Linked DNA regions of Homo sapiens: region 2 is linked to region 1. Evidence: fine-mapped expression QTL. A gene starts in region 1. The other region holds a variant in brackets. All regions are shown on one strand. Distances are between the middles of the regions. Region 1 holds the start of PDCD5 (programmed cell death 5). Region 2 overlaps SLC7A9 (solute carrier family 7 member 9).

Evidence for each region.
Region 2: its variant is fine-mapped to the expression of PDCD5 in coronary artery (GTEx, PIP 0.97).

Annotation. Positions count from the first base shown.
Region 1 is chr19:32,578,466-32,583,845 of GRCh38, reverse strand. It overlaps PDCD5 (programmed cell death 5), which reads right to left and starts at 2,656. Exons shown (of 6, transcript NM_004708.4): 1 at 2,519-2,656; 2 at 1,614-1,651. The coding sequence starts at 2,584. RefSeq lists silencers at 2,655-2,831, 2,177-2,906 and an enhancer at 3,117-3,206.
Region 2 is chr19:32,853,203-32,858,582 of GRCh38, reverse strand. SLC7A9 (solute carrier family 7 member 9) reads left to right here. Exons shown (of 13, transcript NM_014270.5): 9 at 40-143. Among named protein-coding and RNA genes, the nearest start is that of SLC7A9, 14 kb to the left of the region's middle. The variant T/C (reference allele first, on the strand shown) is at 3,117.

The DNA of each region.
Region 1 (5,380 bases):
ACAATAAAAAAAGATGGGGTCTCACTCTGCTGTTCATGCTGGAGTACAGTGGTGCAATCACAGCTCACTGCAGCTATGATCAGCTCAAGCTCCTGTGCTCAAGTGATTCTTCCCCCTCGGCCTCCTGAGTAGCTGGGTCTACAGGCTTCAGTCACCACACCTGGCCTGCCACAAACTATTATATCACAGAACCCTAAGATGCCATCAATTCTAAGATACACCATAGTTTTACGTATCTCTAAAAATGAAAAACCCTAAAATGAGAGGTCTAATAGAGATCTCCATTCAAAACTGGGGTTTCTCGGGAGGCCAAGGTGGGAGGATCACTTGAAGCCAGGAGTTTGAGACCAGCCTGGGTGATATAGCGAGGCTATTAAAAAAAAAAAAAGTTTAAAAAAATTAGCCAGGCATGGTGGTGCACGCCTGTCATCTCAGCTCCTCAGGAGGCTGAGGTGGGAGGATCACTTGAGCCCAGCAGGAGTTTGAGGCTGCAGTGAGTTCTGATCCCACCACTGGGGTATCAAAGAGCAACATTCTCAGTACAAAGTAAAGAATAAATAAATATGCCATGCAGTAAGGGGCAGTACAAAAGCTTGCATGCACCTGGCCCTGACGTAAAGAAGAAAAAAGTTCAGTCTTACAGGGTTGCTGTCTGAATTCACACTACTAGGCAGGAGGCAGGGGAAAACCTCAAGCAGAGAATTTAACTTTCAATGGTCTCAGAAATGTACTCAAGTGATAGCAGAGTCAAAAGTAAATCCCCTCTGGAAGAATCTGGGGCAAGAGCAATCTGTTTTAAAAGGCATCCTGATTTCAGATATGTGACAATGAAAAGATGTACACGGCAGAAATCAATGAAATTTGCGTCGTTTTACTTCCTATCACTACTCCAGATACTTCTCACCGTCTGTCTTCTCCCGAACCCTCCCTTCCTATTTCTGTAGACCCAGCACAGTGCCTGACCCAGAGCAGGTGCTCTATAAATATTTGCTGGAGAGGAGGAGTAAGAAGGTGAGGAAGGGGAAATAGAGAATTGTCCAGTAGCTAAAGGTTTCAGTCTTGCAAGATGAAAACATTCTAGAGTGTGAACACTACTGAAGAGCACACTTAAAAATGGTTGTGATGGTGAAATTTTATTTAACCACAATTTTTAAAAAATGATAGCATGATAGGGTAATCACATACTCATTCAATAAACCTGCCACCGAATCAATTACCTGCATCTGTCTCAGGTGCTGTGCGCTGTGTTGGGATAAAACAATCAGAATAGCTTACCAGTTAACACTTATTGAGCACTTACTAAGTGAGGCACCGGACTCACGTCACCCCCACAGCCGAGGAAACTGCCACAGCTGCCTATTATCAGGCTCATTTTTAAGGTACTCACATTGTAGCAGAGAAACATCAACCAGTAATTGCAATACAAGGTCTGATGTGGAGCTGCACACGTGTTTATTTAACAATAATGAAGATACCCTGCGGATGATTTTGGCCAAATCACCATTCCAGCAAAACAAAAAAATCTGAGTCACACACCTGCTTAAAATAACTACAGCAAAAGAAATCCATTTGGTGAAACCACCCTTCAAAAAGTTCACGTTTCCAGCCCATACCTGTGCTTTGCTTCCTGTTGGGCCGCATCACCAGGATCCTGGAAAAAAAAAACTTAAATTTAATAGAGAAATTTCACGGGAGGCGGCGGGAAAAAGGAACGGTTCTGTTGTTTCCTATACATAACAGTCTCTTGCGGTGGTAGAAACAACTCCCCAAATAAGAAACTGGGCCTCACAGAAATCAATGAACTAGTTCCCACTTACAACGTTTTGATGAACGTCTAAAACCACAACCTCAGAAGGCTTTGGAATACAGAGCACCCTGGGGAGGGGAATCCCTGTATTACGAAACCGTGTTTCACATGTAGGAATAATTTCTGGAAAATAAAACGGGCCTCGGTATTAGGGACAACGATAACTCAAAGACTGCGCCCTCCGTCCCTAAGGTCCCGGTCCCTTATCAGAAACGCCTCTCCGGGCGTGTGATCCATCCAAGCTTCCCAGGCGGCCCCTCCCTGTCATCCCGGCGGGGCAAGCGTTCCTCCGACCCTGCCGCGCTCTCAGCACCGGGAACACAGCGGACCCTCAATACCTGTCGGCTAAACTTGGGTCATAACAACTGAACTCCGGAAAAACTGAATTCGGTCCGGCTGCTGGCTCCAAAAGCTGAGATTGTGCTTGGATCCAGGCCCGCCAGGACGAGCCCGCTCCAGGCTAGGGGACCCCACACCCCAACGCCAGGGCAGGTCCCGCACGTGGCGGCCCCCGCCGCCAGCCTCCTGGGCCCCTCGCGACGAGGAAAGCGACGAGGCCACCTCTGAGCCGGCCACGAGGCCGCCAGGGCAGCGCAGGGGACCGGGGCCCCGGGGAGGCGCCCAGAGCCTCCGCCCCGGAGGCGCGCCCTACACTCCGGGCGAGGGCGGCGCCCCGCGAGGGCCAAGCCTGGCGGGGGCTGATGCGCTCACCCCGTGTTTGGCCTGCAGCTCGGCCAGCCTCTGTCTCCTCAGCGCCTCAAGCTCCTCGTCCGCCATGGCTCGGCGTCAGCGCTGGAGCAGCCGCGGTCACTCTCGCAGCCCCTCGGCGCGAGCGCGGCCTTGACCACTGCGCAGGCGCTCGCGGGGCCCAGGCGCCACCAATCCAGCCCGGAGCCACGCCCCGCGCCGCTGCCAGGGCGCCGGCAGAGGCCCGATTCCCCGATTTCAGGCGGTCGAGCTTGGGCGCACGGAGGGGCGGGGCCTGGGGCGGGGCCTCCGGGATCCACCTCCCACCCGTGATCGGCGCCTCTGCGTGCAGGGACTTGGGCTGCGCTGGGGCGGGGCTGCGCTTTGGAAAGGTTAAAACCTGAAAGTGTGGCATCAACAAGTATAATAATTATGGGTGCAATGTGCTGGTGACCTAGAGGGTTAGGCGTATATTATCTCTATTTATAGATGAGGAACCAGGGGCGCAGGAAGGCTGAGTGGGGTGATGGAAATGTCCTAAAGCTGGATCGTGGCGGTGGCTGCCCGGCTCCTCGGTGCACACAGAGGCCGGCCGGTGGCTCGCCGCCTGTGGTCCCGACGCTTCGGGAGGCGGTAGGGTCATTTGAGGTCAGGAGTTAGAGACCAGCCTGGGCAATATGGCAAGAGCCTATCTCTACTAAAATTTTAAAAAACTAGTTGGGCGCGGTGATGTGCACCTGTAGTCCCAGCTACTCAGGAGGCTGTGTCAGGAGGATCGCTGGAGCCCGGAAGTTCGAGGCTGCAGTGAGCCTTGATCTCGCCACTGCACTCCAGCCTGGGAGACACAGCCAGACCCTGTCTCTAAAAAAAAAAAAAAAAAAAAAAAAAGTGCACATCTGCCTCCTCGCCATCTGCCTCCTCCACGCACAAAAGGGCTTTTCCTGGGAGGATACTGCAGTGGGCAGCTGTGGCTGGTGTAAACTCTTTGGTGGAACAAATCCCTTCTGCCTTTGACTTGGGGGAATTGGGGGCAGAGAGGATATTCAGCTACCTAAACGTGTGACTCATACAGATTCTGTTTGTTTGTCTGTGTGTGTGTTATTTTATTTTTTACATTAAAAAAATACAGATGGGGTCTCGCTATGTTGCCTAGGCTGGCCTCTATCTCCTGAGCTCAAGCAATCCTTTTGCCTCAGCCTCCCAAACTGCTAACATTACAGGCATGAGCCACCACACCTGGCCTGTGTGTTTTAATTGTGGCAAAATATACACAATACAAAATTTACCATTTTCACCATTTTTAGGTGTACTTTTCAGTGGTATGAAATGCATTATCGTGCAGTTGTCACTCAATCTCAGCTCACTGCAACCTCCACCTCCCGGGTTCAAGCGATTCTCCTGCATCAGTCTCCCAAGTAGCTGGGACCACAGGCGTGCACCACTGTGCCCGGCTAATTTTGTATTTTTTAGTAGAGATGGGGTTTCACCATGTTGGTCAAGCTGGTCTCGAACTTCTGACCTAAAGTGATCCACCTGCCTTGGTCTCCCAAAGTGCTGGGATTACAGGCATGAACCACCTTGTCCACCATCAATCTCTACAACTTTTTTTTTTTATCATCCTGAACTGGAACTCTACCCAGTAAAGATTTAGGTTGGTGTGAGGGGCCTCTAATGGGAATGGGTGGGGGTGGGAGGGGTCTGAGAATAATAATCAGTCTCCACCCATTCTCATTCTAGTTTCTATGAATTTGCCTATTCTGGGTATCTTGTATATGTGGAATCATACAATATTTGTCCTTTTGTGACTGGCTTACTCCACCTAGCATATGTCTTAAAGGTTCATTCATGTTGTAGCATGTGGCAGAATTTCTTTCCCTCTTTAGACTGAATATATTCCATTGTATGGATATACCTAGCACATTTTGTTTATCCATTCATCTGACAATGGACACTTAGGTTGCATCCACCTTTTGGCTATTATTAATAATGCAGCTATGAACATGGGTGTAGAAATATCTGTTCAGGTCTGTGCTTTCACTTTTGGATATATACCCAGAAGAGAAATTGTTGGATAATGTGATAATTCTGTGTTGAGGAATGGCCATACCATTTTCCACAGCAACTGCACTATTTTACATTCCAACCAACAGTGAATGAAGGTTCCAATTTCACCGTCTCCTCACCAATATTTGTTGTGTTCTGTTTTTTTGTTTGTTTGTTTTTTGATTGTTTTTGATAGTAACCATCCTAACGGGTATGAGGTGAGGTGTTGTGGTTTTGATATGCATTTCTCTAACGATTAGTGATGTTGAGCATCTTTTCATGTGCTTGTTGGCCATTTGTATATCTTCTTTAGAGAAATGTCTACTCTAGGCCAGGTGCGATGGCTTACTCCTGTAATCCCAGCACTTTGGGAGGCTGAGGAGGGCAGATCACTAGGTCAAGAGATTGAGACTATCCTGGCCAACATGGCGAAACCCTGTCTCTACTAAAAATACAAAAATTAGCTGGGCGTGGTGGCACGCACCTGTAGTCCCAGCTACTCAGGAGGCTGAGGCAGGAGAATCACTTGAACCCGGGAGCCGGAAGTTGCAGTGAGCCAAGATCGCGCCACTGGACTCCAGCCTGGTGACAGAGCGAGACTCTGTCTCAAGAAAAAAAAGAAAAGAAAAGAAAAGAAAAGAAAAATGTCTCTTCTAGCCCTTTGCCCATTTTAAAATTTGCTTTTCTTTTTTTGTTGTTGCGTTGTAGTAGTTCTTTACATATTTTAGATAATCCCTTATCAAAGTATATGATTTGCAACTATTTTCTCCCATTCCATGGGATTTACATTCTGTTGATTGTGTCCTTCAATGCACAAAATATTTTAATTTTCATAAAGTCCAA
Region 2 (5,380 bases), 270 kb before region 1:
AAGAAAGACCCTCAGGACTCATCTCGCTTCTCTCACCAGACATTTGGTGACCGTGTTCTCTATCCTGCTTCTTGGATCGTTCCACTTTTTGTGGCATTTTCAACCATCGGTGCTGCTAACGGGACCTGCTTCACAGCGGGCAGGTAGGGGACCCCCACCGTCACTCCCAGGGTGGACAGGGGCGGCGAAAGCAATATCACCCCCGAGGAAGACACACAGCTAAAATCCTCAGGGTTCTGCCAGGCGAAACCCACGCCAGTACAAGTAGGAGACCCAAATCCAGAGAAGGGATGTAGCTTGAACCCACACCGCAAACTGGCCAGGAAGGCATGGATGGGCCTGCACACGGGAATTGATCAAGGCTGCCTGGAATCTCAGCCTTTCCACTCCAGGGGGCCCTAGTTCCCAACATGGGGGGGAAGCTGCCCATGCTGAGGCGAAGGGAAGCGACACCGCGTGAATGAGGCACTGGTTTTCCACGTGGCACTTTTTACCTTTTCACCTAGTGATATTTTTCACATAGTGATATTTCCTGAACATCTTCCCCATGTTAATATATACAAACTAATTTGCTAATTAGCAAATTAATAAATAACCCAGAATTGGCTAACTTTCCCTTAAAGGGCCAGATGGTAAATATTCCAGGCTCGCAGGCTGCATAAACCTCTGTCACAGATTCTCAACTCTGCCTTGGTACCCAAGAGTGAACAGCCATGGTCATGTTCCAATAAAACTTTATTTGCCCAAACAGCTGTGGTTTGCCAATCCTTTAGACCCATCTGGTCTAGAGACTGCCACCAGCTGTGTTGTATCACACTTTCAGATGTAGCATAACTTAACAAATCCTTCACTCACACCTGGGTGTGGGTGGTTTCCATGAACGTTGCCGCAGTGAACATCCTCGAACACGTGTCTTGGCTTAGTTGTCCAGTGTTCTGAATGGATATATTTCAGAGTGAAATTGACAAAGTCTGTGTATGTTAAAAAATGAAATACCATAAAATCATTCTTCTAAAGCCAAACCGAAATACATGTAGTGCTAGGCCTCCAACTTCATTCTTTGTCAAAAGCGTTTTGGCTAGATCCTTTGTATTTCTTTATAAATTTTAAATTTAAATTTTAATTAACTAATTAATTTTGAGGCAAGGTCTCACTCTGTCGCCCAGGCTGGAGCACACTGGCATGATCTTGGCTCACTGTAGCCTCTACCTCCTGGGCTCAAGCAATCCTCCCTCCTCAGCCTCTGGAATAGCTGGGACCACAGGCACGTGCCATCACACCCAGCTAACTTTTGTATTCTTAGTCAAGATGGGGTTTCACCATGTTGCCCAGGCCCATTTCGAACTCCTGGCTCAAGTGATCCTCCTGCCTCCACTTCCCAAAGCCCTGGAATTACAGGCATGAGCTATCGTGCCCAGCCTTATATTATTTTTGAGATGGAGTCTTGCTCTGTCACCCAGGCTGGAGTGCAGTGGTGTGATCTCGCCTCACTGCAGTCTCCGCCTCCCTAGTTCAAGCAATTTTCTGCCTCAGCCTCTGGAGTAGCTGGGATTACAGGCACCTGCCATCATGCCTGGCTAATTTTTGTATTTTTAGTAGAGACGGAGTTTCACCATCTTGGCCAAGCTGGTCTTGAACTCCTGACCTCGTGATCCACCTGCCTCAGCCTCCCAAAGTGTTGGGATTACAGGTGTGAGCCACCACACCCGGCCGCCTTATTTTAAATTGACAAATAATAATTGCTTATATGGGCTGAGGCAGGAGGATTGCTTGAGGCCAGGAGTTCGAGACTAGTCTGGGCCACATGGTGAGACTCCGTCTCTACAAAAAGAAATTTAAAAATTAGCTGGGTGTAGAGGCCCATGCCTGTAGTTCCAGAAGCCCAGAAGTTCCAGGCTGCAGTGGGCCACGATCACACCACTGCACTCCTGCCTGGGTAACAGAGTAAGACCCTGCCTCTAAAAAATAACAACAATAATTGCATATATGTATGTGGTACAGTGTGATGTTTCAATACATGTAAACATTGTGGAATGGCATATGTATCACCTCACATACTTCTTTATGCTGAGAACATTAAAAATTCACTGGCTGGGCATGGTGGCTCACGCCTGTAATCCCAGCACTTTGGGAGGCCGAGGCGGGCAGATCACGAGGTCAGGAGATCGAGACCATCTTGCCTAACATGGTGAAACCCTATCTCTACTAAAATTACCAAAAATTAGCTGTGCGTGGTGGCGGGCGCCTGTAGTCCTAGCTACTTGGGAGGCTGAGGAAGGAGAATGGCGTGAACCCAGGAGGCAGAGCTTACAGTGAGCCAAGATCACGCCACTGCACTCCAGCCTGGGCAACAGAGCAAGACTCCGTCTCAGAAAAAAAAAAAAAAACCACTAGCTATTTTGAAATATACACTATTACTAACAATAGTCACCTTGCTGTGCAGTAGATCACCAGAGCTTATTCCTCCCATCATACTGAAACTCTGTAGCCTTTGACCAACATTTCCCCTTTTGCCATCCCAGGCCCCTCTTCCTTCAGCCTCTGGTAACCAGCATTCTACTCTCTATTGCTATGTTTGAATTTTTAGATTTCATGTATGTTGCAGATGATTACAACTATCTGGGCTGGTGGTACAGGGATAAGAAGAATTTACCAAGACAGCTGTAGGTCAGGAAAGGCAGATTTATTACAGAAAGTAGGAAAATACATTGCAAGGGTGCAATGAGCAGGTCAGCAAGAGAGGAACTGACTGCAAAGAGACAAAGGCTTGCTGGGGATTTTGTAGGATGGTGCTTGTGCTGTGTGCTGGACAGGGGTACGTGCAGTACTGATAATGCCAAGGTTGCAGTGAGCTAACTTGCATTTTTCTATTTTTTTTTTTGAGACGGAGTCTTGCTCTGTCACCCAGGCTGGAGTGCAGTGGCATGATCTCGGCTCACTGCAAGCTCCACCTCCCAGGTTCACGCCATTCTCCTGCCTCAGCCTCCTGAGTAGCTGGGACTACAGGTGCCTGCCATCACGCCCGGCTAATTTTTTTTTGTATTTTTAGTAGAGATGGGGTTTCACCGTGTTTGCCAGGATGGTCTTGATCTCCTGACCTCGTGATCCGCCCGCCT[T/C]GGCCTCCCAAAGTGCTGGGATTACAGGCGTGAGCCACCGCGCCCGGCTGCATTTTTCTATTAGCTGAGGGACTGGCGATCACTGGGCACAGGAAGCTTGTAAGTTATTTGTGCAGGGGGGCTATGTGTCCTGGACCATGAAGAAAGGCGGGCTTGTAGCTTATCTGTCTTATCTCTTTTGGCTTTCCCTTGGTCCCACCAGCCTGACTCATTTTCCCTAATTAGGACTCCATAATACATAAGGGAGATCATGGGATATTTGTCTTTCTGTGTCTGGCTTATTTCACTTAGCATAATGTTCTCTAGAGTCATCTCTGTTGTCAAAAGATGACAGAATTCCATTCTCTTTAGAGTCGGAATAGTATTCCATTGTGTATCTATTACATTATTTTTATTCATTCATCTGTGATGGACACTTAGGTTGTGTCCATGTCTTGGCTGTGGTGAATAACGTTGTAATGAACATGGGAGTGCAGACACCTGACATGTGGATTTCAATTCATTCAAATATATACCCAGAGGTACATAGGAGTGCAGGTATCTGGCATATGATTTCAATTCATTCAAATATATACCCAAGGCCAGGTGCAGTGGCTCACGCCTGTAATCCCAGCACTTTGGGAGGCCGAGGTGGGTGGATCACATGAGGTCAGGAGTTCGAGACCAAACTGGCCAACATGGTGAAACCCTGTCTCTACTAAAAATACAAAAATTAGTGGGGCATGGTGGCAGATGCCTGTAATTCCAGCTACTCAGGAGGCTGAGGCAGGAGAATTGCTTGACCCGGGAAGCAGAGGTTGCAGTGAGCCGAGATCGCACCAGTGCACTCCAGCCTGGGCGACACAGTGAGATACTCCGTCTCAAAAACAACAACAACAAAAAATCATTGCCCAGACCAATGTTACAGAGCTTGCCTGTTTTCTCCTAGGAATTTTACAGTTTCAAGTCTTATATCCATTTTGAGTAGATTTCTTGTCTAAGGGGTGAGATAAGGGTCCAATTTCATTCTGGCAGCTTTCCCACTTGCATATGAATATTACAATCAGCTTGCCAGTTTCTATAGTAAAGCTGTTGGGATTTTGATCAGGACTGGGTTGAATCCATAGATCAACTGGGGGAAGACTCTGCTGTCTTAAAAGTACTGAGTCTTCCAGCATGGGTACGGTGGCTCACACCTGTAATCAAAGCACTTTGGGAGGCCGAGGGGGAGGACTGCTTGAGCCCATGGGTTAGAGACCAGCCTAGGCAACATAGTGAGACCCCATGTCTACAAAAAGTACAATAGACTTAGCCAGGCATGGTGGCACATGCCTGTGGTCCCAGCTACTCAGGAGACTGAGGTGGGAGGATCGTGTGAGCCCAGGAGGTCGAGGCTGCAGTGAGCTGAGATTGCACCACTGCACTGCACTCCAGCCTGGGAGACAGAGTGAGACCTTGTCTCCAAAAAAAAAAAAAATACTGAGTCTTCCAATCCATGGGTGGACTATTTAGGTCTTTAATCTTGTTTTAACAACTTTTTTGTTTGTTGGTGTTTTTTTTTTTTTTTTTTTGAGACAGGATCTTGCTTTGTCACCCAGGCTGGAATGCAGTGACACGATCCTGGCTCACTGCAACATCTGCCTCCCAGGTTCAAGCGATTCTCATGCCTCAGCCTCCCAAGTAGCTGGGATTACAGGCATATACCATCACACCTGGCTAATTTTTGTATTTTTAGTAGAGACAGGGTTTCACCATGTTGCCCAGGTTGGTCTTAAACTCCTGGCCTCAAGTGATCCACCTGCCTCAGCCTCCCAAAGTGTTGGGATTACAGGCGTGAGCCACTGGGCCTGGCTTAATTTTCTGTAAAAAAAAGTTTTTTGAGTAGTTTTTGGTATATAGTTCTTGCACATCTTTTGTCAAATTTATTCCAAAGAATTTCATTTTTCATACTATTGTAAATGGTACTGTTAAAAAAAAGTTGCTTAATTTTTAGTTTCTGATAGTTTATTGCTAGTATACACAAACACAATTTTAACAGTTCTAATTAAGGTACAAATATAAAACTCACCCTTTGTAATTATACAACTCAATTATTTTCATAAATTTATAAGGCTGTACAAACATCACAATCCAATTCTAGATCATTTCCATCACCCCAAAAAGTTTCCTCATTGCCTAATTAATCCCTGCTTTCACCCGCAGCTCCAGGCAACCACTAATCTACTTCTGTCTCTATAACTGCTTTTTCTTGACATTTCATCTAAATGGAATGACATGGGCCAGGC